Regions from separate parts of the Homo sapiens genome. Here all the other regions are linked to region 1. Evidence: fine-mapped expression QTL. A gene starts in region 1. Each other region holds a variant in brackets. All regions are shown on one strand. Distances are from middle to middle.

Region 1 (7,766 bases):
TTGTCATCTGATAACATCTTTATACACCTCAAAGTCCCTCAACCCATTCATTATGGTTTGAATAATGTCTAAAGCACGTACGACTCAAATGCACACTGAATATCCTGTGACTTACAGTAGAGGGGTCTCTGAAAGGACTTGAATTTGGAGCCAGGAAATGTCTCTGAAGTTATGGTTTTTCTCAATGTGAGAGGTAAGATCCTTGGTTGCCTGGAGATACCTTAGTTAGTGCCTTCAGGATCTGAAACAGACACATTATCACACATGGTCCAAAGGTTCAAACCTATCCTTTCATGGCTTAGTGCTTAACACAAGACATTGTCCAAACAACTTGTTTACAGCAATCCTGTCAGGGTCCCTATAGTTTGGTTCCTGCAAGTCTGTATTCTGTCCTTAATGTATAAGAACAATGTACATTTTAAATAAACTGATTAAAAGTCATGAAGTTTCACTACATATATATCATAGGTTAGCTCCAGTATTGGAATAAAGACTTCTCTCAATGTTTGTATGAGAATTTCATGGTAATGAAAGTGTCGTCATGTAGTATCAATCATATTAAATTTTGCTTTAAAATATTGAAGTCACCCCATAATGTTATGAAATATTAAAATCAAATATGTGAGACAAAAAAGGATCTGCTTCATAAATCATGCCAGCTAATTTCTGGTTGGGGAATGTAGGTCTCCAACCAGTGGAATCATGGTGGGGAGGGGTTGTGGTGCTTCACATTTATGAAAGACTGTTGAAAATGACGATGACACTGGTTTTATCTGGGGAGTTTTTATGACCTCACACTCCCAGAATGACGGTGGTTTGCCTCAAGTATGTAGAATTTGCCTGCCTTCCCAACTGAGCTTCTTGGATGCTATGGACGCGTTGAACAGCATCCTTCACAAGCGTTAAAATCCGTGGTGAACCTGTCACTGCCCTCCTACGTAAATATCTGACCACAGAGCTGCTGCTTTGGGAGGTAGCTGTGATCATTTCTGTATCATGAGTCTCTGAGAAGCATAAGTCACCTGCTTCTCATATTCCAGAGTTCAGTAGTTGTCTCTAAATGAGATAGCCATGGCTGGGCGCAAACAAGAGAATACAAATGTCTACGTGAACGGGTCTGTCCTGCCACTCCACTGCGATCCGTTGTTATTTCTGAGAATCATTTTGATTTTTGGACTGCTTATTTCAGTGTGTAGGAGTCTTCCTTGTAGATGAATGCCTTTCACGTACAAGTCTTTCTCTTATTTATTGATTTATTTAAAAATTTTTCCCTACAGAGGGAGAAACAAAACACAAAAATTCCCTTTCCTGCCACAGGGGAAAACAACTGTGGCAAAACAGAGAAGCCCCCGAAGTAAACAGAGTAATAGAGTACCCAGCCTCCCATAGAGCTTGCAGAAATCTCATTGTGCAGACATGGAGCTTCCCAGCTTTTGCCTTGTTAGCCTATTTCTTAACCAGTAATTCTGTTTCTTAATAGGATAAAGGGCCTGACTTACATGAAAGCTCAAAGTCTTAATCACAATGATAAAATACAAAGTCGTGGCAACTGTAATAAGTTTAAAGACATATGTAGCTTTTCAAGGACATCTTGTCTTTAAGGAAAAGTCTTTCATTTAGCTAAAGAAATTAAACTGAATTGTTTAGTCTTTTAAACAAAATGATGAATTTAGTGAAGAAAACAAAACTCTCCATGGCTAATGTAATTTATGCAAAATCATGCAATTAGTGATAGCTGTGCTAGACTTTTTCTTTTCCTTAACCAAATGCGCCTCTAATAAAACCATCGTGAGGAGCAGTGCCATCTAATGTAAGTAGTAAACATGGATAGTAAATGATTAATATCTGGTGAGGCATGCAGATGGCAGGACTTCCATTTTTTCTTTGAGCTCCTTGTGCATGTTTGCTAATCATTCTTGCAAAAAAATTGCAAAGATAAATATGAACTTTCAAAAGTAACATTCAACAGGATATGAATGTAAGAAATAGTACAGTGTGGGGGAATAGTAAAAACCAGCACTTTCCGCCTCTGCATAGTGAAATGACGGTAACTTGCTGTAGCGTAAGCTTAATAAGGGTTATATCATTTTCATGTATGTACTACTCTGGGAATGGCCCGGGTCTTGTGAGTGGTATTTTTTCATCAAGTACCCAGCCAGCGCAGTCACTCTGACAGTCCCCCCACTGAGATAAGGCATGGAAAGGTAACCCTCTAGCAAGTCCTCGTTGAGGGGGGAGCGTTCAAGTGCACAGACGTCTACCCTGTGCTATCCTGAGCTGTAGTCTTCTGAAATGATCGTTTGGCTTCCCAGCCAAGGCAGGGCTCCCCCAAAGTTCATTCCCACTCTTGCAGTTTCACCTCGGGATGCTTCCGCAGAATTTCAGCGCCTAAGCAGACAAGGTCAAAGTAAACCGCTTCACCGCTGCTTCTGGCGCAGGGGCCCAGAGCGCGTGCAGCTCCCCAGCACAGACCAACAGCAGGAGAGGGGTCCGGGCGGGAGCCCTGGGCTGTAGATAAGCAAAACGCACCCATTTTCTCTCCTATTTACTCCAGAGGCACCTCTCCTCCCCCACTCCTGGCATCTCTTTATCACTGGCTCCCTCTCCCTGTGGCATATTTTTGGGTAGTAGAATGCTGAGGTCACAGGGAGCGGCTCTTTATCCAAGCAGTGGGGACATCAGCCTGGAGCCCTGAGCATGAACCAGCAAGATGCAGACTCTCGCTCTTGACTTTGGGCTCCAGGAGCTGCCCCGACCCCGGGCTGCCCGCGGGCTCCCTCCTCCCTCCTGCCCTCGCCCGCCAGCTCGCAGTCTCTTAGGTCTGCAGCGTTGGTTGGTTTCCCACGCCTGTCCCGGTCTGACTCGGGCTGCCAGGCACCGGGAAGCCCCGCGGCGCCGACCCCAACCCGCAGCCCCGGGAAGGTGCCAACCCCAGCGAGTGGAGGAGACGAGCATTTCACGTGGGCATCTGCCTTCACTGCTGCTCGCGCCTCTCCTCAACGGCCGGCGTCAGGGCCCCTCTGTTCCAACTCATCCCCCCCCCGAAGTTAATCAGCCGTACTTGTACTTTCCAGGGCGCTTTAGTTTGGAAAATACTTAAAAGCCTCGAAACCTTCCGGGGAGACGGCCGCCCCCAGATCTCCCAGTTTTGCCTGGCTAGGGCTGTCGGGCGCTCACGAAGCTGTGGCGTCTGTCTGGAACCCACATCGCAGAGGCGCAGCCCCGCTCCTCCCTGACGTCGCCAAAGTTGCCAGACGCCCCTCAGCGACCCGGTCGCGCCAGATGCAGTTGCATAACCTTGCCCCCCACCTGCGACCGCACCGGGTCCGCTCCCGGCTGCACCGGGGTGTCCCGGCCCCGGGAGCCGCCGAGTTTCCGGCCAAGCCGGTTTGGGGCCGAGTGTGTGCGCCCGAATCGGGGTCGGCGCCCGTCCCAGCGGTGCTCTGCCCGCGGCCAAGTACGACGGGCGCGGGGGCGCGGGAGGAGGGCACGCGGGGCTCCGCTTACCTTCCGCTGCTTACAGATAAGTCGAGGTCGATGCAGCGCCTGGCTCGGGCATGTCTCGCTGCGGACCCTGGCAAGCCTGGGGCGGCACGGAGCACTCCGGACAGGGCATCCGCGGCCAGACTCGCCGCGCTCACGCGGAGGAAGCCTCGGCTCCGGGGACTTGGCCCGCTGCGCGCCTGCTGCCCGCCCCCTCCACCGCTGCCGGCCCGGCCCTGCTGGCCCGGCCGGCCCCCGCGCCGCAGCTCGCGTCGCTCGCGTCCCTCCGGCCCCGCTTAGCGACGCGCGCGGGGAGGCAGCGGCTGGGCCAGCTCCGGGGACGCCCGCGCGCTCGCTTGCTCGCGACGCGGCGGAGCCAGCCACAGCCACCCGGCTTCGCGCTCCTCCGATGTCCTCATTTACTGCAATTGTCTTCGGCGAGATCTCAGAGCCAGGGCCAGGAGGCGGGGGCGGGGCAGAGGAGGGAGCAGGAGGGAAGTCCTTTCCGCTGCTCCAGGTCCCAGCTACTCCGCGGAGCCGGGCGGCCAGAGGCGAGGGCGCCCCAAGCCGCGCGCCTGCCGCCTGTGCGCCCGGCTGGCACCGAGGCGGGCGGAGCCCCGGGCCCCGCGGGGCGGAGGTGGGGCGGGGGCGGCGCGGGGCCGGGCCGGGCCGGGCCGCGTGCGTGGGGTGGGGGATAGGGAGGGAGTGGAGGAGCCCCCTCCCGCCGCCGCCAGAGCTGGAGGAGGAGGAGGAAGAGGAGGAGGAGGTGGAAGGAGCTGCCGCCGGCTGCCGCCGGCTGCCGCCTGCGCGCGGGGCTCCGCCACAGCGCGTCCTCCGGGTTTCTGGGCTGCAGGCGGCGCTGCATGGCCCGGGAACTTGTTGAGTCTACCCTGGAGCCGCCTCCGGAGCAGCTGGCGGGCGGGGGACTCCGTGTGTTCTCTCAGGGATGGGGGGTCGCTGGGGACCCTGCTGCATGACTGTCTGCTGTGCCAGCCAGCCTGGCCCGGCGGGGCTTTGGGAAGCCAGGCTTGAAGGGTGCGTGTCTTGTAGGTGCCTGGCCGCTCACCTGCGGATGCTGCCTTGTAGAAGCAGGAGTTCGGGGATCCTTTCAGTGCTGGCTCCAACCTGGTGTCAGCCTCTCTACATGGGGACAGGAGGTCCTATGAGTGGCCTGAGGACTGAAGTGGGAGGGCCTGCCTGGTAATGTTGCATGCTGACATTTAGGGACACTCCAGAGCAGGCGCCACTGCCACTCCTAGCCAGGAACCCTACCCCCCATCCAGAGCACACACCACCCGTCAGCAGAAGCCACAGGGCGCAGAGGCTGAGTTCCTTTGTGGCAGAGTAGAATTCTCTTGGGAGAGGAAAAGACCTAGGATGCACACGGAGCTATCCCCGCCCTTAATTTCCCACCCACCAAAGAGTATTGGGTGTTTTGAGCTCAGAGCAGCAGACCCAGGGGCCCCTCTGATGCCTGTCAGGCCCTGGGGTCTGGGCCAGGGACTAAGCAGCCAGCCGAGTGCAGGGCTCCTGGCCCCCTGGATTTGCTCCTAGAATGTAATGTAAAATGTAAGTAGCCACATTTATTAGTCTGTTTCTCAGGAAAGGTCAGAGAAGTAGTGGACCCCAGGGAAGGGACAGGCTTCGGAGAGGAAATTGGGAGGACAAATGGAAAGTCCCTTCACCCACCCACCTCTCCAGACACATCAGTGGGCAGTGAGACCTCTTTGCCTATACATCCCTGAGTCTCTGCACCTAGCACCAGCTCTGTGCCTGTGACCAAGCCATAGCTCCATCCTTGTTCGCTGAGCTGAACTGAGCCTATCACTGCCTTATAGAGTGTCTGTTTTTTATAAATGACTTTATACGAAATACCTTCTTTGTATGTGGATGCTTTGGGCAGTGTGTCCAGACATTTCAGAAGAAAAAAAAATCTAAAATGTCATCTATTTCCCTCTTTACCCCGCAGCATCCTTTGGTATACAATTTTGCCAGCCTTGGGGATCCAGATATGCCCAGGACGGGAGTCCTGAGCCTGTGGATCCAAACTCTGCCCACCTCACTCTTCTTGTTGTTCTTCTTAACTCAGATCCCCCAAGCTGATTTTCCAGCTTACCAGGGAGGCTGTTGGGAGCTGGCTGGAAAGAGATGCTTAATTTTGTGTGAGCAGTATGGAAACTGCAGTCCCCTCTTCTGCCTGGAAGGGGCCTGGGAAGGGAATGTATAGGAGTTGGGGACGTTTAAAACCAGATAGGAGAAGTTGCCACTCTCCAGCATGTTCCCTTGGGGATGTGCTGTTGCAGCTGTGGGCTCCAGTAATTTTCCCAGTGGTCTGGGGAACTTCTGTAAATCTTACTTTATTGGCAATCCATAAAATTGAAATCTGCCTTCCGTCTTTTAAAGTGACTGTAAATAAAGCTGCCAGGAAACTTGGGCATTGGGCTGGTAGTATCAGAAGGCTGAAGTTTTCCGGGACCAAGAGTGAAAACAGGTCAACATAAATGCATGCCCAGCAAGGCAGTGCTCAGCCACAGGTGGCACTGTGAACTGGCAAGAAAACAGCTCCAAGGACAGTGCTATCTGAGATTCGCATGATGTATAACTCCAGGAAGAAAATGGAAAGCCGTAATTGGCAGGTTAGAAAATCCACTTACATGAAGAGGAGAGTATAACGGAATTCTGTAGCATCATCAGGACTGCTTAGAGTTGTTCAATTGTGTAGTAGACTTACAGTTGTTTTGCTAAGTCTATTAAAATCATTGGCATCGCTTCTTTTTTTTTTTTTTGAAGTAGGAAACCATTTACATATTGTAGTGCTTAAGTGCATGTCTTCAGCATCACAAATCAAAATATTGGTGAAAACTTGCCTCACCTTACCTTTGGCTCTGGAGAGATATTCCACATGGGTGAGGTGTGTGTCATCATGCTCCAGGCTTTAAAGCAAGCATCATGCTGGGGGCTGGCTGGAGAGAAGGGAGTTTCAGCCATCTTCCTGCCCACAGATCCCTCTTGCATTTTTTTTTAATAGATGGGATGTAGGCATATTTTTAGGGTCTAGAATGAGTCAATATGCTCGGCTTCCTCAGGAAAAAAAAAAAGTGAAACTTGATAGATTCATTTTAGGAATCAATTGGTATTGGCTTTTTATATTTTGCTTAAGATTTTTGTTGAAAAAGATAGACTTGCAAAGGAGAAAATAGCTACTTTTCAAGTGGGATTTCCTAAAAGCAGAGGAATAAAAATAAGGGAAAGTTCAAGACGGCTAACTAAGCAAAATATCCACGTCTCTCTTCTTTTGCCTTCTTCTTGGAATTGTGCAGGGGTTGTACAGAGAATTGCTGGAATTCCACCCCTATGGTATAGTGAGTTTGAGGTCTCAATTTCCACATTAAAAAGTCAAGAATATACAAGTCAAACATGTTCAAGAATGTTCATAACAGGTTTATCTATATCTGTTCCAAACGGGAAATAATCCAAATACCAGTCAACAGTAGATAAAGATTTCTTGGTTCTTCGTATAGTGGAATACTAGACAGCAACCCAAAAGCACTAACTGCTGATGCATGCTTTGGCATGGAGGGCTTCTACAAAGGTGCAGAACAAAGGAAGCCAGACGCCCAGTGTTTATGACATGATTCCCTTTAGATGAAGTCCAAGAATGCGACAAAGTTATCAATGGTGGAAAATATCAGAATGGGGATTACCTTTGAGGCATACTCGTTGCCCGGGACCACAGCAACTTCACTGGTGCTGGATCATTCTGTCTCCTGCACTAGTTGCTTATGCAGTTTTCCACCTATATAGAAATTCATGGAGATGCTTCCTGTCTCAGTGTGACCTCATTTGTCTGAGCATCATCACTGTGTCATTGCAATGTCCACATGCATGCTCCCCAATAACCCTTACCCCTCAGTGAACCAGTGTATCTGTCAGTGTGATTAACCTGTATCCTCTCCAGTGTGCAAGGCAGGAGAAGAGAAAAGTGTCTCCAAACTAGCAACTGCAGAAGAGGAGCCTTCCAGTTTAGCTACACAGCAGAACTTCCTTCTTTAGGAGACTGCCGATGAAACGCCTGCCCTCCCAACTGTCCGATGTCGCTGTGACAGAGCTCGCTATGGACGTGAATTTTTCTTTCCCATGTCTTTGTTACACAAAAGCGGTCCCGATCCAGATCCCAAGAGAGGGTTCCCGGATCTCACACAAGAAAGAACACAGGGCGAGTCCACTGTGCAAAGTGAAAACAAGTTTATTAAGAGAATAAAGTAGTGAAAGAACAGCTACTC
Region 2 (7,766 bases), 20 kb before region 1:
CTGCCTTTCTACCTTCCACCGTGAGCTTGTGCTGGCAGCAACTGAACTAGGATTGATTTTAAAGTAAAACCATCCTTTGTCTTGATTTAAGGTGCCCAAGTCCTCAGATGCTTAAGAACCAGGCACTGTGCCATGTTCTGGGATACCGGAGTGAATGACATTTCGTGATGATGGAAATGTTCCGTAGCTGCACTGTCTTATGTATGTGGCTATCGAGCATTTGAAATGTGACTGCTGTGACTGTGAAGTTTCAATTGTCATTGAGTTTGAATTTCAATAGCCACGTGCAGCTAGTGGCCACTGTATTGGATAGAGCAGCTCCAGAGTTTCAGGGACAGTCTTGTGTGGCAGCCTGTGTGCCGGGCATATAGGGGATGCATTCATCACATTGGACGCCCACAAGACCACTAAGTCCTCCCCAGACCCCTGCTCCAGCATTGCTGGCCAGCAAGATCAACACTCATGCCACTAGTGGACATCTACCCATTCAGACACACCTGCCACTAGGCTGAACACATTAGAAGGTCACCCCATGTCATTCCATCCCCTGTCTGCAGGACAGACAGTGATCTCAACTTACAGGTGAAGAAAGAAGGCACAGAGACATACAGCCCTTGCCCAAGCCCTCAGTGCCAGATTCCTACCCAGACATGTCTTAGTAAACTGAGAACCACACTGCTAGATGGATGGCATCTCAGAGAACCCTGAGGATCTTATTTAAAGCAATCTTCCATACTTGTTCTAAGAGGAGTGTAAGAAGGCGCTCCCATATATCGTACGGTTTTCCTTTCTTGTGTTCGTGGGTGTTCAGCCCTCTCAGGTTCTTCTTTGGGCACACACTCCTGTGAGTATGCACATTAGTGTACATATTTCATTTTACACCATTTGGTGAACTTTATTTCACCAAAGATGTTGGCATCTTTCTCTTTTGCTGTCTGGTTTAATTCACTACCAACTATATCAACATCAGTGACTGGGTCAATGTTTGACCTTTTAATTTTTTTGCAGGAATGTGGACTACTGATCAGTAAATCACTGGTCTCCCCCACCCCACGCCTGATGAGTGTTGCTTTTGGATCTGTACTGATGGAAATGGGATGAAAATGGAGATGTAAACCCAAGATTGAACAAGGCCTTTTGGAAATGTTATATGGTGTTAGATTACCTATGAATCTACTGTTAAGATTTTTGTACATTTGGCTGGCAGTTCTTTTTGCTTAAGAGCATCAAGCTGTAGACAGGCCTCCTGCACCAAGCTGGAGCAGCCAGAGCCCAGGGCAGGACCTGCCCCAGCCTCTCCACTGCTGGAGCTGGGCCTTTCACCTCAGCCTCCACCTTAAGGCAGGAGGTGTTTCCTCCCCATTCTTTGCAGTCAGCAAACTGTCTAACTCAGCCACAGCAATCCTCTTAAGGAAACTTTGTGCCCAGGTGGTTTTCTGTCCTGGAAATACATTACTTGGCTTATTTCAGGCTGGCTTCTAGCTTGCTAAACCCAGGGCTCAGGGCTCGCAGAGTGAAGGGTGCACATCACATGAGGCAACAGGGCGCTGCCTCCGATGTTACCTCCAGTACACAGGCTAGCAGGAACACAGACACTTTCAAGGGGCAATGGGCAAGAGAGGTCTCGGCAATCCAGGCGAAGTCCGATAACCCCCAGACCCAGAGTAGAACAGGCTGCTTTGTATCAGCTGAGCACATGCCGGCCTGTAGGAGGCTTCCGCACTGGGGAGCTCAAGAACTAAAACCCCACCTTTAGGTCATTTGTTTTTAAAGATGCTGCTGCACAGTTTAAACTTCAAAACATGAAGTGCAAGATGGTCTTATCAACGCAATAAAGTATTGGCCGTGAAGTTAGTATCATTCTTTCTGCAGCCCCACTGGACACATAGGGCAGCCCGTGGGGAAGGGCATCTGTCTCCTAATCATATACAGTCAGGACTGGTCTCACAATGCCCATTGCTTCTTTGGGTTCCAGGTACAGAATGGAAAACACACTGTCTATGATGTAAAGCCTTGTACAGTCCTGAATACCAATATTATTTCAATTATTTATTATAAGCAAGTCAGCATTTACTTTTCCAAATGTCACATGAAATTTCCTTTCTCTTCCTAATACGATTCCTAAGAGGCCTGTGGCCTCTTCTCTTCCTGATTCTCTTCTTATTTAGAATAGATATTTTGGACTGGCATATGTTGTTATACATTATCAATATCATAAACCTTTAGCCCTAGCAGAATAAAAGGAAAGGTCTATCAATTCATTCTAAGCATAGGTATGGTTTGAATTCAAGGCCAGAAAGATGAACATTAACCAGAAAGCGTATCGTGCAGGATGCAGTGACGTCTAGTATCATAAAATAATCTGCGACCCCTTGGAGCTCGCCACGCCCTTAGACTATGACCTGTTTACGGAAATGCTGGCTTTAGTCTCATTACAGACTTGGGTTTGGGGCTACAGATGGACTCTGTGGTGATCAGCCTGCATAGCTTCCTAAGACATGGGTGAACATACATACCCTTCCCGATGGGCCTCTCCTTTTTCCAACTCCTGAATGACCCCCAAGAGCACTTTGATGGTTTCTTGGCTTGAACTGATCAAGTTCTCCATCATCTGAAGTTGTGCTTTGAGGTCGACCACTTCCGTATGAGGCACGATTCGTTGGCATTCTTCACCTGCAGCAACCGCTGTGGGACTAGGCTGGTTCCCCAGCCCCGGCGGGGTGTGAGTCTGCGACGGCTGCTCACTACATTCGGGGGACAGGCACTGCATCGGGGGTGAGCAGGCCAGGGCAGTTTCCGAGGGCGCCTGGAGCCCGTTGAGATGTGTGGCTCTCCTCCGCTCGTCATCTGCCGGGCAGAGTGACCACTGGCTGGCGGCTGCAGAGTCTGACAAACCAGGCTCGGGGGCCCTGGCACTGAGGGCAGGTGCGTAAACGGTGGCAACCTCCGTTTTAAACACCCTCCTGAGGGCAGGTGGAGCGGGCTCCTCGGAGTTTGGCCTCCCCCGGTCCTGCTTGGCCCTCCCGAGCAGCTGGTAATCGGGCTCTTCGGATGGAGGCCGAGTGGAGTTTTGGAGCGCAGCTTCTCCATAGCTGAGCGGCTCCGGGCTTTTACAGGGCTCTGTGCAGTTGACCCCCAAAGGCTGGTCCACTGTGTTCATGTGTTGGTTGGAATGGAAAACCAAGGCTGTGGTCTTGTGCACCCGCCCCGCGCCACATGGCCGGGCCTCCTCCATGGGTCCAGCCTCGTTCTTCTCTTTC[G/A]CATCTGTTAGAAACCCATTGTTTTGGCTTTTAAAGGGATCTGCAGCTGGGAGGCTTTTGAGGTTCCCCTTTTTGCGGTCCAGAGGGAACGTCTGGTAACACTTCTTAAGGTCGGGCGAGGTCTGCACGCCTGTGCTCTTGGTGACGTTGGGGATGGACCTGCGTGCGGGCACTGTCATGTATTTGCGGTAGGCTGCTCTGCAGGACACGGGCTTGGCCTCCCGCTTCTCCCCCAGCTGGCCCGAGGACAGCTGTGTGTCCCTCTGCTCATTCTGTGCCTCGCAGATATCCTTAAACCGCACCTGCAGGGCTTTGTTCCGTTTTTTAATCTGCCGGTTGGGGTCCAGGGCGTATTTCATCTCCAGGGCCAGGCAGGCGGCGGGTTCCACTTCACTCTCCGACGTTGTGAGTATGCATTTGCCGGTGTCCTTACTGACCATGGTTCCTGCATTCAGAAACAGCAACAGAGGTGTCAGTGGGACAGAAATACACACTCAAGCACCGGCCGCACAAACTTTTAGCCACCACGACGACTGCCTGTTTCCTAATTATATTTAAGCAGGTGAGGTCGGCCTTTATGTTAAGGAAAATCACACGGGCTGAGAGTCGCTGGCAGCACAGCTTGAAATGCTTCTCAGATATTAAAGCCTGCTTGCTTTTCCAGGTGGGATACACTCGCTTTCCTTTTGACAGTAATGCATGTTTCCCCATTAGACAAACCTGTTTTACTACATTCATCAAGAAACCCAATGATGCTGCCTCTTCTGCTTTGCAAATTATCTTTTCACACGCGTGACTCCCCTTCTTAGGCAGATGGTTTACCAAGTGCTACTTATTTGGTTTGCGTTTTGACTATTTTTTGAGGATGACGTCATTAATCTATTGCTGGAATCTGGGAGAGCTGCTGTTTTAAAGACTTACTGGAGCTGCCACGTCTCGAGCAGATAAATGTGGAGAGCCCTCCGAGGAGGAACGGAAAGAAATCTATTTGCGTGAGCCGTTATGGATTCCGGGGGAGAGTTGGCCGTGCTCCTGGGTGGGAACCGTGAAGGAGAAGTCGTCGAGGGGTGGTCGCTTCTCATGGGTTAACATCAGCTCTAAAAGGAACGTGGGTTTCCCTGCATCTACAAAGGCCATGTTTGCAACTCCTTTTATTCCATGGAGAGTGGTACTGGAAAATAATTCTTAAAAAAAAAAATAAAAGAAATTACTCATTCTAGAATCAAGTTTTGTGTTGTGATCACAACCTCCGAAAATGAAAACAATGGTGGTGGTTTCAGTACTTAAATTCTGAAAGCAAATAAAACTATGAGGCTTTATGTTAATCATGCAAATTCATCCTGGGCTGAATTATTAAATGCAGCTAAAAAGATGCAGGTGGCCAATGACTCCTCTCGGGGAATACCAGTGGGGTAAAATGCCTTCACTTTATTAGGCGGATTCACAGCTGTTTATTGCACATGGAAGAACTTATTTGATGGCTGCGCTTAAAGCAAGAAAATAGAGTTAAGTGTGTTGTTTGTGAGTGAGGCTTCGCCTTTTCCCCCCTTGTGTTTGAGAAGAAAACAGTCAAACGGAAGGCACTGAGGGTGTACGGGGCCCGAGTGGCTGGAGCTGAGTGCCCAGAGAGGCAAGGTCATGGACATGGGCCCGTGAGAGCTGCACAGAAACAGACTTCGTCCACATTGCCCCCAGCCCAGCTGCCGACCTTGTGCCCTGTCCTGGGGGTGTCTGAAAAACCAGCCCAGAGACCTGTGGCAGCACTCATTGGAAAATGCCACAAGAACTATGACATGCGCAGCATGGCCACTGCTTCTGGAGTGAGGTGGTTCGAGTGCCAGATGCTCTGCTCGTTCACATACAGAATGCCTTGCTTACAAATGTTCCTGAAGGTCAAGGCTACACTTCCCATTTCAAGGAGGATACTAGGGTTCAGAGATGTTGCGTCATTTTTCGGTGTCACACAGGAAATAAGCAGCGCAGGCAGGAGCAGGACCCTACTTTAGTGGACCGCTGAATCCATGCTGTTCTCATAGACCCAGCTGTCCAACAGACAGAGGCATGACCCCTCCCCACATCCTTAGCCCTTACTGAGTTAGCATGACAGGCCGAGGTGCACGGTGGTTCCATAAGGGGGAAGAAGAGACAACTTCACAGCCACCATCTAAAAGTAAGTGACATGACTAGCCCTCTATTAAAATGACCTCTATGTCTCAGGCCAGCCTGGTCTTGTCACCTTGCTGGCCTCCACTGCTGTTCACTGGATGAAAGAGTGAAGGAATCAAATTCTTCATACATTATGCTATGAACAACTAACAGGTAATCATGTGTAAGAACAACAAAAAACAATCTCTGCAGCATTTGATTTAGGTGGGACCAGAGTTTCTAAATCCTGGCACTACTGGTATTTCAGGATGGATCATTTGCTGTTGGAGGGGCTTTGCTGTGCGGTGCAGGGTGGTCAGCAGTCCCTGGCTTCTCCCCACTGAAGAAGTAGCACCGCTCCCTCCCAGTGTGACAACTAGAAATGTCTCCAGCCATTACCAGATGAGCCTGGGAGCAGAGTCTTGCCTGGCAGAGAACCACTGCATTAGCCCTTGCACCTCTGGATGCCTCGGGCTCTTGTTCGATTATCCTATAGTGTGTCCTGAAAGGTGAGGCTTGCGTAGACAGCAAAGGAAGTCCTTGGTGCTTTACTAGGTGCTGGGGGTATTTGGAGATTGCTGCAATTTGAAACTTGAAAAACTGGGCAGTTTTAGAGAGGAGAGAAAAGGCAAGAAACAGACTGGAGATGCACCAATATCTTGGCCCCGTTTGGGATGGCTAGATGATAGGTGGAAGGAGGGACAAGGCGTGCCTGCTCAGGAGAAAGCATCGATGGCTTTTAGAGATTCTTATCCCAGCAGGTTAAACAGATGCACACAAGACAGCTTGGTGTGGGGGACAGTATGGGTAGCAGTGGGGGTGGAATAAGAAAATTAAATCTTAACCTTCACTCTGATCTCCTATTCATTCTTTAACTGCCTTTGTTGTCCAGGTATGTCAGAATGTATTGTGCCATCATTCTGCAGAAGACCTTCATACTAGGGAAAATTTGAAAGAGAGAGCATTTTTACAAAAAGCAATTTACTAGTAATTTATCAGCCTTTTCCCTGCTACTTCTGAAAAATGTGTGTCTGAATAAGTTTGTCCTGCCATGCTATTCATCATCACCATTTGCTAGGGACTGCACTGAAATAATTTTCTTACATCAGTTGGCTGGGGTAAGAAATATTCTAGGTCTTGGACGCAACCATCAAACTAATACAACAAATCAGAAGAATTAATTGCTGGTGGCCAAATAATAATAAAAAATTCTAAGCTCTTCTCTGTTTTATAGAGGGTTGCTGGTACATAAAAATCATTTCGTTGTTAGTAAAAAAATGATGGTAATACTTAGGATTTTTAATCACTTTAGTTTGTTATTGCTGACTTAAAAAACAGTAATAGTAATTGAGTTCTTATTCTCTGATAGGGAAAACACCAAGGAATTTTTGTGGCTGGTTTATTTTGGCTTCAAATGAGGTTATGAGTTCTTTCTGACGGCTGGATGACATTTTCTAAAGCTTTAAAATTGAATTTCTGGACATTAAGAATTACTAAGGTGGACACATCTTTTCGGGGTGTTCATTTGCTCTTTATTGGGGGTGGAGGGTAAGGCTTACAGTGATTACCATTAAGAAAATGATTTTGTTATGAAAGGAAATGGGGCATTCTACAGAGGACTTTCCCTAAGACAAGTGGAACCTTCTCCCACACTATTTCATTCATCATTCCTTCATGCATTTATTCAGCAAGTGAATGTACATACGTTACAGTGTAGCATTAACATTCAGTAAGCATGCAGTTAAGTGCTCCTATGTGCTAATCAAATGTCACCATTCCCCTATGCATAGCAGTTGTGTTTTCTAGATTTGATCCTCATCATATCCTTACAAGGCAGCCACTATTGATACCCTCATACTGCAGATTGAGAAACCGAGGCACACGATTTTGGGATTTTTTGCAACTTGCTCAGAGTGAGGAGGCTAGTGGGCCACACCCATTGAAACAGCTGAATCCGTTTGAATCACATGCCCTAACCCACTACCCCTGCTCAAGGAACTCTGTAACTTGAAGTGATCCATGATAAACTTGAAAACATCAAACAACTGAAACTCATCTGAGCAATGCCCTTGTCTTGTTCCCACAGTGTATCTGGGTGCTGGTTAGGCAAGGACATCCAGGTAGTTCCGGTAACACAGTGGGTGTTGGAGCACTGAGTGAATGTTGCCTTGAATTCTGGACTGAGCATGAAGCTGCAATAGGATTCTTCATGATGGCTTGCCTTGGCTGGGTCACCCTAGAGAACCATGGACTCTGGTTTGGGGAGCTGATCTCTTGGCTCTAAAGCAGCAGGAGTTCATAAAGTTTATTTTTCGTAAGAAAATTGTGTTTTAGAATTCATTGGACTGTGCTGTCTTGAGG
Region 3 (7,766 bases), 160 kb after region 1:
GCAAGTCACTCCTGAATTACCCAAACCGCAAGTGGAAAATCCACTGCAGCTGAGTATCATGTACTTTAGGATGTCTGAACTTTAGGATTTCCCTGGGATCATTATCATTCTAATCATTCTGGGACCTGAGAGAAGTAACTGAGTCGGGGGCCAGCAAGGCACAGACACTGATGAAGTTCAGCCTAGCAGTGGCCAGTTTTTTTTTCTTGATACAGAGTCTTTCTCTGTCGCCCAGGCTGGAGTGCAGTGGCGAGATCTCAGCTCGCTACAACCTCCGCCGCCCAGGTTCAAGCAATTCTTCTGCCTCAGACTCCCAAGTAGCTGGGATTACAGACATGTGCCACCACGCCCAGCTAATTTTTGTATTTTTAGTGGAGACGGGGTTTCACCATGTTGGCCAGGCTGGTCTTGACTTCCTGACCTCAGGTGATCCACCTGCCTCGGCCTCCCAAAGTGCTGGGATTACAGACGTGAGCCACCGCACCTGGCCTGGGCCTTCCTATTTTGAGGGAATCATCCCAGAATGAGAAGAACTCTGTGTAGCTGGGATGTGAGAAGCATGTGCAGAGCTTGAGTGGGTCAGTACATGCTAGGCCGATCCCACTGTGAGCATTTCACCTCTGCTGGGGGACATGGGCGCAGGGGGTGTTTGTGTTCAGGGGGGCCACCTCTTTCTGATGCCACTTTCCTGGGCTTGTCCAACCCCTGCTTGGCTGGAAGGGGACTCACCCACCTGCACATCGAGAACCTCACCAACCTCAGAGGAAAGATTAGAACAGGGCTTCACCACAGTTTTGCTTTCTGTGTGTCCCACCCCTGGGAAATGCTGCAAGGACGTCAGCCTGCCAGGTCACCCTGCAGCCAACTGCATCCTTTCCCAGCCCTGGCCGCAGCAGCTGCTGGGATCCCTTTGTCATTAGTGCAGGAGCAAAATGGGAATGGGGGAGCCAGCACTACAAGCCTCCAAGCAGTGTTCAGGTCGTGTGTTTCCTGGGCAATTGGGGGGCGTGAGTTATGCAGGGCGCTTTCCTCTCTCCCACCCACCCAAGTCCAGTAGCTTTGCTGCCTGCGTGCTTTCCCCAACCATGGACGGGCCTCTCCTACCATGGCCTCAATGCTGGGCCGTCTCCCCAGCTGAGATGCCCCCTCCTTAACCGAGTCTGCCTGCATCAGTGCTCACCTGGTTTAGGGCTGCGCTTAGAGCTAGCGTGTCCTGGTAGGGAGTGGCCTAGGCTCCAGTTCCTTTTCTTCACCAGCACTGTGGGCCAAGGCGCATGGCCTCCCACGCACCACAGCAGAGCTGCCAGGTGAGATTGATCTTCTGTGGTTGAGATGATCACTCTTGGCTGTAGCCCACTCATGCCGTGAGTGACAGACAGGTGCTTAGGGCACCAGAGTCTTCTCTAATAAGGTGGCAGCTGGCCGCGGTTGTTGATTTACCGGCCAGGATCTTCGCCTCAAGAACCACAGTGCGCTCTTCTGTAATCAGTGCTTTCCTTCTCACATCTCCTGACACGAGGATGAGCAGAGCAGGCTCGATGACACAGCTGCTCAACTGTAATCCTGTATGATAATTTTGCAAATTATTATTTTTAATATCAGCTTTTTCCTTAGGCAATAAAAGAAAAAGTTAAATTGCTCACAAACTAATAAAGGTTTATCTTCTGGAGCATCAAATTCTGTTTACTCATGAAACACACACCTCCTCTATGCACCCATCGAGAGGAAAATTAGCATTTATTTTCCCTGATAAACAAAAACAGTGGAAGATTTGTTGGCATCTTTTGGTGTTAAGCCCTTCCTTACATTTAAAATGACATAGAGGAATGCAAGAACTTTGGAAGAGGTCTGCCCTGACTCTGGATTTAATTTTAACTTTGGAAAGCAACCTGTTGTGTGCAGTAGGATGTTATGTGGTGTCTGCAGTGCCTAGACGCTAACGACATGCATGGAACCAAGCTCCCCCTTGGGCCCAGGAGCCAAGAGATTGAAGAAAGGGAAATGCTTTCATGACTCTCCACAAGTTCCTCCACGTTCCCACCGGGGGGAAGATGTTGTGTAACCCTCAGTGATGAGAAAGTGAGATTTCCCCCAGCTAGATTCCTCCTCCTTTGATTCATTTTGGTGGCAAGAGAAGTTGAAGCTTTGACACTCTCTTTATTTGCCTCAGTGCTAGAAGGCTTTAATTGCACTTAAAAATAATTCCAGTCCGATTTTCAAATGCCTTCCGGAGTGATTCAGCGTTTTTCTTTTCCCTGATTTCCAGGTACGGAGATATGAGGAGACAGATTGGCTTTGAAATCAGAGACATGTGGTACAACCTTGGTGAGTAGCCTGGATGTGGGGGCATAGTGAATATCTTGCATCCCTGGTGGGTCATGGCACTGGCCGTGTTCATCAGTGTTGGGATGTCTTAAGATCTTAATGGCTTCTGTTCCTTGGACAGCAGTTGCTACTCTTTGTAGTAACTGTTTTCAGGAATTAAGAGATAGAAGACCAAAGGCAAGGAAAGAAAATCTCACGGGTGGGGCAAAAAGAAAAATCCACAGAGCACCCTCTTGTGTTGTGTGGACACGTGGCTTGGAGCTCCTCCCTCCCTGGTGTTGCCTCCCTCCCTCAGTTGCCTCAGTTCCTTCTGCGTCAAATAGGAAGCTCATCCTGCTGTGACATTTGCCATCACTTACCATATTCAGTTTTACAGACTCTGCCTTCTAAAGGGTTAATTCCCCTCCTCAAAACCAGATCTACCTGGTGGCAGCCTAACATGCTCCTGCACTCAAAGCAGTGAAGGGTCTGTGTGTGTATATGAAATTAATAGGAGTTTATTTGTAAATTAAGTAATTTTTTCCAACTACTTTTATCATGAACAGTAAGAATAAATTCTCTATTAAAATTTTAACCAATGTGACATGTAATTCTTATAGATAAGCCCCTTCAAGAAATCAATGACTGACAATAACTTGGTATCTTCCCAGCATCTTTACACTACCCTCTAGGAATCTGGCCTCACTCCTCGTTGAGATGAAGCTCTCTCTGGCTCCTGCCGTCAGCCCTCGGGCTTGCTTTGTGCCGAGGTGTCCTAGGCCATGGGGTGCTGGTGGCCTTGCCTCAGTCCTGAGCAAAGCATCAGTTGCTTTTCTGCCCCAGGATCTCCAGGCCTCTGCTTCCTTCCTTCAAATGGACACGAGAAGCCTGCATTGGCCTGTTGCAAGAAACCCTCCACTCTCCCCTCTACCTCAGAGAATCTTTTCCTACTAGAAGGAGGCAGGGGTCTGTCCGCATCACTCTGTTAGCCTCGTAGCATTAGGGTTTCACTTGTTGCACCAGGGTTGGGACAACTTAGCTGCACCCCAGCCTGCTTACTTCCCAAGCAGCTGTGACTCCCTGCAGTGGCTGGAGAGCATGGCAAGAAAGAAGCAGAACCCAGCGAGCCACGCTTCACTTCTAGCTCACTGTTTGCTTTTGCATCTTCCTTGCCATTCTTTGGTTTGACATGAGGCCCAGTTAGGTTCTCAGGAATGGAAAGCCACAGCAGATGCTCCTGGGTGGGGATGAAGAGCGGGTCAGAGTGGCCCTGTCTGCCTGTGCCCTCCCAGTACAAAGAGAACCTGCACCATTGCATCCTTTCTGCGTGTCAGTCCTGGAGTCAGTGGAGGACTCCTCGAGGAAGCTCTGTGCTAGGTCTCTGCACATGATTTTGCTGCAGTAGCTCCTATGTCCAGAATCTGAGTACTGGGTCTCAGCTGTCAAAGGGCCTGCTGATCTCTGCAACATGATACCTACCAGGCACCATCCTGTCCTTGGCCTTCCTGCCATCCCAGGGAGGAAGGTAGGGGCTCTAGGCTCAGAGTCAAGAGAGATGATAAGTCCCACCTTGAAGTTTTCATCCTCTCCCACTCCTGCCTCCCCGTGAGGCCTGATTCACATGGCTCAGTCTTTCTGGGCCGTTAGATAAAGTGGTTGGACTGAATTTTTCAAGAGCCTTCCAATTCCAAAACTCAATAATTCTATGACATATATATACGATGATCTCAGTAATAACGTGCTAAGGCTTTTAGAACAGGGAGGAGGACCATCCGTGATTCATTCCAATTGATCTCTCTGTGTTCTTTGTTAAAATCCTGCTCTGACAGATGCATCTGTCATTTGCTCTGTTAGGCCAGACGGCAGGCCCCACACCAGGCAGGGACCCAGTGTGGTCCCATGAGAGAGAGAGAGAGGCAGGAGACGGGGGAGGGCTTTCACAGCAATGGCATGGAGGGGGGCTGTTCTCTGTTGGAACTCAGTGAGTCCAGGACTTTTATAGGCACCA[A/G]CGTTCATGAAGGAGGTGATATGAGCTCCACCTGCCACAGTTGGGCTCTCAGGGCAGACCCCAGACCTCTTCTCTGGACACAGGCTCTCTCTGAGGCCATCTTTTACCCTGGCCCCTCCTAAAAGAGTGAGTCCATTTTCTTCTGTGTTGTTCCATTTCAACTCTAAAGTATAGACAGGGAATTGCCTATTTCCCCCAAGAGGACACTTGCACATATACTTTCAAATGAAGGTTCTCATTCTGGAATGGCTCGGTAACATTTCACATCATTTATGATAATTAGAGACACCACCCTAGCGGAGGGTCTGATGGGTCATTACATACTGAAATGCTTCCTTCTCCCCGTACACAACTGCAGCCACCATTTGACTCACCCTGGCCCCTGAGCACCCCCAGGATCCTCCACTGCTCTCCATGTGCCAAGGTCATTGCCTAGCACCAAGGGAGCCTCTAAAACTCAGCTCGAGCCACAGCTGGCCAGAGGTCACCCTGACTGATGGGTGCTCCTGCCTTTCTAGTTTTCTGATTTGGGATTGTTTTTGTTTTTGTTTGCAAGTATAGTTAATGTCACCTCTGTAGTCCCTGAGATTGATCACCACTGAAAGTGGCTCCATTTCAATTTGTGCTACGTGCCATGATAACAATGAAGGAAGGAAAGGCGGGCCCAGAAAGGGTGAGTTTCTCCGCGTGCCCTCTCCAAGTGCTTGGGCAGGCCTGGCCTTCTGAGGATACACTTGGGTCTGACACAGAGCACTTGGTTCTCTTGACGTTATCTGTCATGCTCCAGATAGGCCAAGTCAAGCGACAGGAGACTTTTGATTTGGAAAAGGTTGCAGTGAAGTGAGCAAGCTCCCCCCTTCCCTCCTATCAGTGGCTGATTTGAATATGGTGATTAATGCATGAGGTGTGTGTTTTGCAGCTTTTTAGCCAGGAACACTGACTGTGGCCTGAGAAGCGGCCAAGAGGTCAAAAGTAAACCAAAGCCAATTAGGGTCAGGGACTTGGAAACAACAAGAAGTAACAGTCAGCCACCAGACTTGGGTTCCTTGCTGGTAAAATAAGTTATCTTTCAAAGTGAGGGAGGTGATCTTAAAAGCACCTGCAGCCCACAGGATCCTCCCCAAGCAGCCCCTCAGGATGGCTAAGGATAGCACCACGGGGTGGCCTCCTTCCTGCCATGGTGCCAGGTGCCTGAGTGTCTTTGCCAAGGCTGTCACACTCCAAATTTATGACAGCACATCTCAGTTTCCCAGGATGTATACAACCTACTTTCTACATAGTTTTTTTTTTTTTATTTTAATTTTACTTTTTGTAAATGGGTGCAGGTTTGGGAACATATTGGCAGGATGATAGCACCGACTCTGCCAAGAAAATAGAAATGGAAATCAGATCTATTTATCTGCTTACAATTAATAAACTGTCACTTGAGCAGACCTTCAGCTGAATGCTCCATGAGTCTCCTCCTTCAGTCTTTCCAATAGTATGCATGGCCCATAGAGAGGAGCATCTCAGCTCTTGCCTCCTCCTTGCCCAGCCTCAGAGCAAGGATCTGGGGTCTGTTTTGCTCAATTTAATGCAAGGGCAAACATGGCACTGCCCCATGGGACAGAGTGATGTGTTTCTTTCCCTCCCAAACCTGTCATATTTTGAGTCTGAAAGGGGAAATCAAAAGCAGGCTCTCTCTCAAAAGAAAAAAGGGGGGAAAATGTGCTTATTTACCCAGCTCCTGAGTTATTTATCAAAGCGCACTCTGTGCAGCAGCCTGCCGGAGCACCTGATCTCCTTGCCTGTGCCGCCTCAATTTACATTTTGTTTATTACATCCAGCACACTGGAGCGAGCACTAGACCCCAGCCAGCCAGAACGAATGTGCTTGGAGCAAGATCTTTATCCACCGCGTTGGGTTTGGGATATTTTTCATGCAGGGATTCCCTTCATGGGTGTTTTTTGGCGACTGGGCAAATTGTGTGCTTTTCATTAAAACCCGTATACATTGTGGCCTAATGGGTGTGGCCAGGTGGTGGAAGCTTTTGCTCTGCCTGCTCTTGTGTATACAGAGATTTTTCTGGGATAAGTCTATGTTTAATGTCCCAGATTTTTGAACACCAGTGATTGCAAAGAGATAATTTAAACACCCACAGGGAGGCTTCTGACTAGGGAGGCCTTGGCTTCGTGAGAAAACAAGATGTTGTTCCCAGGGGAAAGAGCTCCACGTTCTGTAACTAAAATAGACTCTAGATGGGCTATGAGACCGGCAAGGACTGGAAGTAAAATATTCTCCTCGTCACCTTCCTTTGGCTCAAAAGTGTGTCCTCTTTTTCTTTAAGTCTACACTGCAGGAGTCACCTTGGTCCTCATTGGTTCCAAACCTGAGTTCATCATTAAATTTGAGCAAGATATGCTCCAGGGGAAATCTATAATGCAAATGTCAAAAAAAAAAAAGGTGGCTACCAGAGAACATTCCCCACCCACTCCTGCTCACCTTGGGGACCACTGGTTTACGAAGAGTCAGTGCCCAGGGCTGTCACTATCCATAGAACCCAGTACCAGCTCCAGGCCAGTGTGTCTTCTGTACTAATAAGGAGGGTGATAATAAAAGGTTAAGCTACTGTCGTTTTGGTAGCTTCTTTTTCCAATCCCTGCTTCTACAACCACTTGTGACTGCTTTCTATGTTTTTCCCAGCTTGGAACAATAAAACCTGTTGGTGACAGACAGAACTTTATGACGCTGAAATTGTGGTTGATGAACAACTCGCTGTCACCATCATCTGTTTTCTGAAACATTGGCTCTGACATTTTTTAGGCATAATACAAGGAAAGTGTCACCTGAGAGATGGAATATAATAGCATTTTCAAGAGAATGCTTTGCAGCAGTTACAGGACTTTCAGAAACATTAAGCATTTGGGAAAGTGGTGAGAATCACACAATGATAGCCTTAGTCAAAATATTAATTATTTAGTAAAAGTTGAAAATAAGATGTTAATTACATTTTGTGTGTATGTCCACCCAATAAAAAGTAATTCAGTCTAATTATGAGGATTACGTATTCTCTTAAGTATCGTTATAGTAGCCACATTTCTTTAATGATTCTCTTTACAGAAATGTATATTCACTGAGTTGCAAAGAAAACTAAAGAATTTGGTTTCCTGATTGTGTAGAAATATTAATAAGATTGGTTAATTCGGGATACATTGCTGGTGTTAAAATACTGCACATATTTTATTCAAACATTTAATTTCTCAGGCATTCTTCTGTTATATGTTGGAAATGAAATGGTTTTAGTTGCAGTGGGGTGAAATGAAAACAAAATCAAGATTTCTGAAAGACAAGAGGGTCAGCTTTTAAAAGATCACCTTTTTGATAGGACCTGCCTCTGAGTTTCATTATGTCACCTTAACTAAGGTTCGCAGCCCCATTTTTAGAAAGGAGTCTTCCAGGAGCTTCATTCCAGAGG

What was found. PIP is the estimated chance that this variant, and not a neighbour inherited with it, causes the effect. A credible set is the group of variants that fine-mapping cannot tell apart.
Region 2: its variant is the best candidate, but not a certain one, in a credible set for the expression of INSYN2A in blood mononuclear cells (TOPMed, PIP 0.68).
Region 3: its variant is the best candidate, but not a certain one, in a credible set for the expression of INSYN2A in testis (GTEx, PIP 0.63).

Annotation. Positions count from the first base shown.
Region 1 is chr10:127,192,490-127,200,255 of GRCh38, forward strand. INSYN2A (inhibitory synaptic factor 2A) reads right to left here and starts at 4,102. Exons shown (of 6, transcript NM_001039762.3): 1 at 3,508-4,102; 2 at 116-241. The region is part of intron 27 of DOCK1 (dedicator of cytokinesis 1); the gene reads left to right.
Region 2 is chr10:127,172,696-127,180,461 of GRCh38, forward strand. The region is part of intron 27 of DOCK1 (dedicator of cytokinesis 1); the gene reads left to right. INSYN2A (inhibitory synaptic factor 2A) reads right to left here. Exons shown (of 6, transcript NM_001039762.3): 3 at 4,182-4,444; 4 at 2,517-3,705. The coding sequence starts at 3,700. Among named protein-coding and RNA genes, the nearest start is that of INSYN2A, 20 kb to the right of the region's middle. The variant G/A (reference allele first, on the strand shown) is at 3,261.
Region 3 is chr10:127,352,403-127,360,168 of GRCh38, forward strand. DOCK1 (dedicator of cytokinesis 1) reads left to right here. Exons shown (of 52, transcript NM_001290223.2): 32 at 2,267-2,325. Among named protein-coding and RNA genes, the nearest start is that of INSYN2A, 160 kb to the left of the region's middle. The variant A/G (reference allele first, on the strand shown) is at 4,313.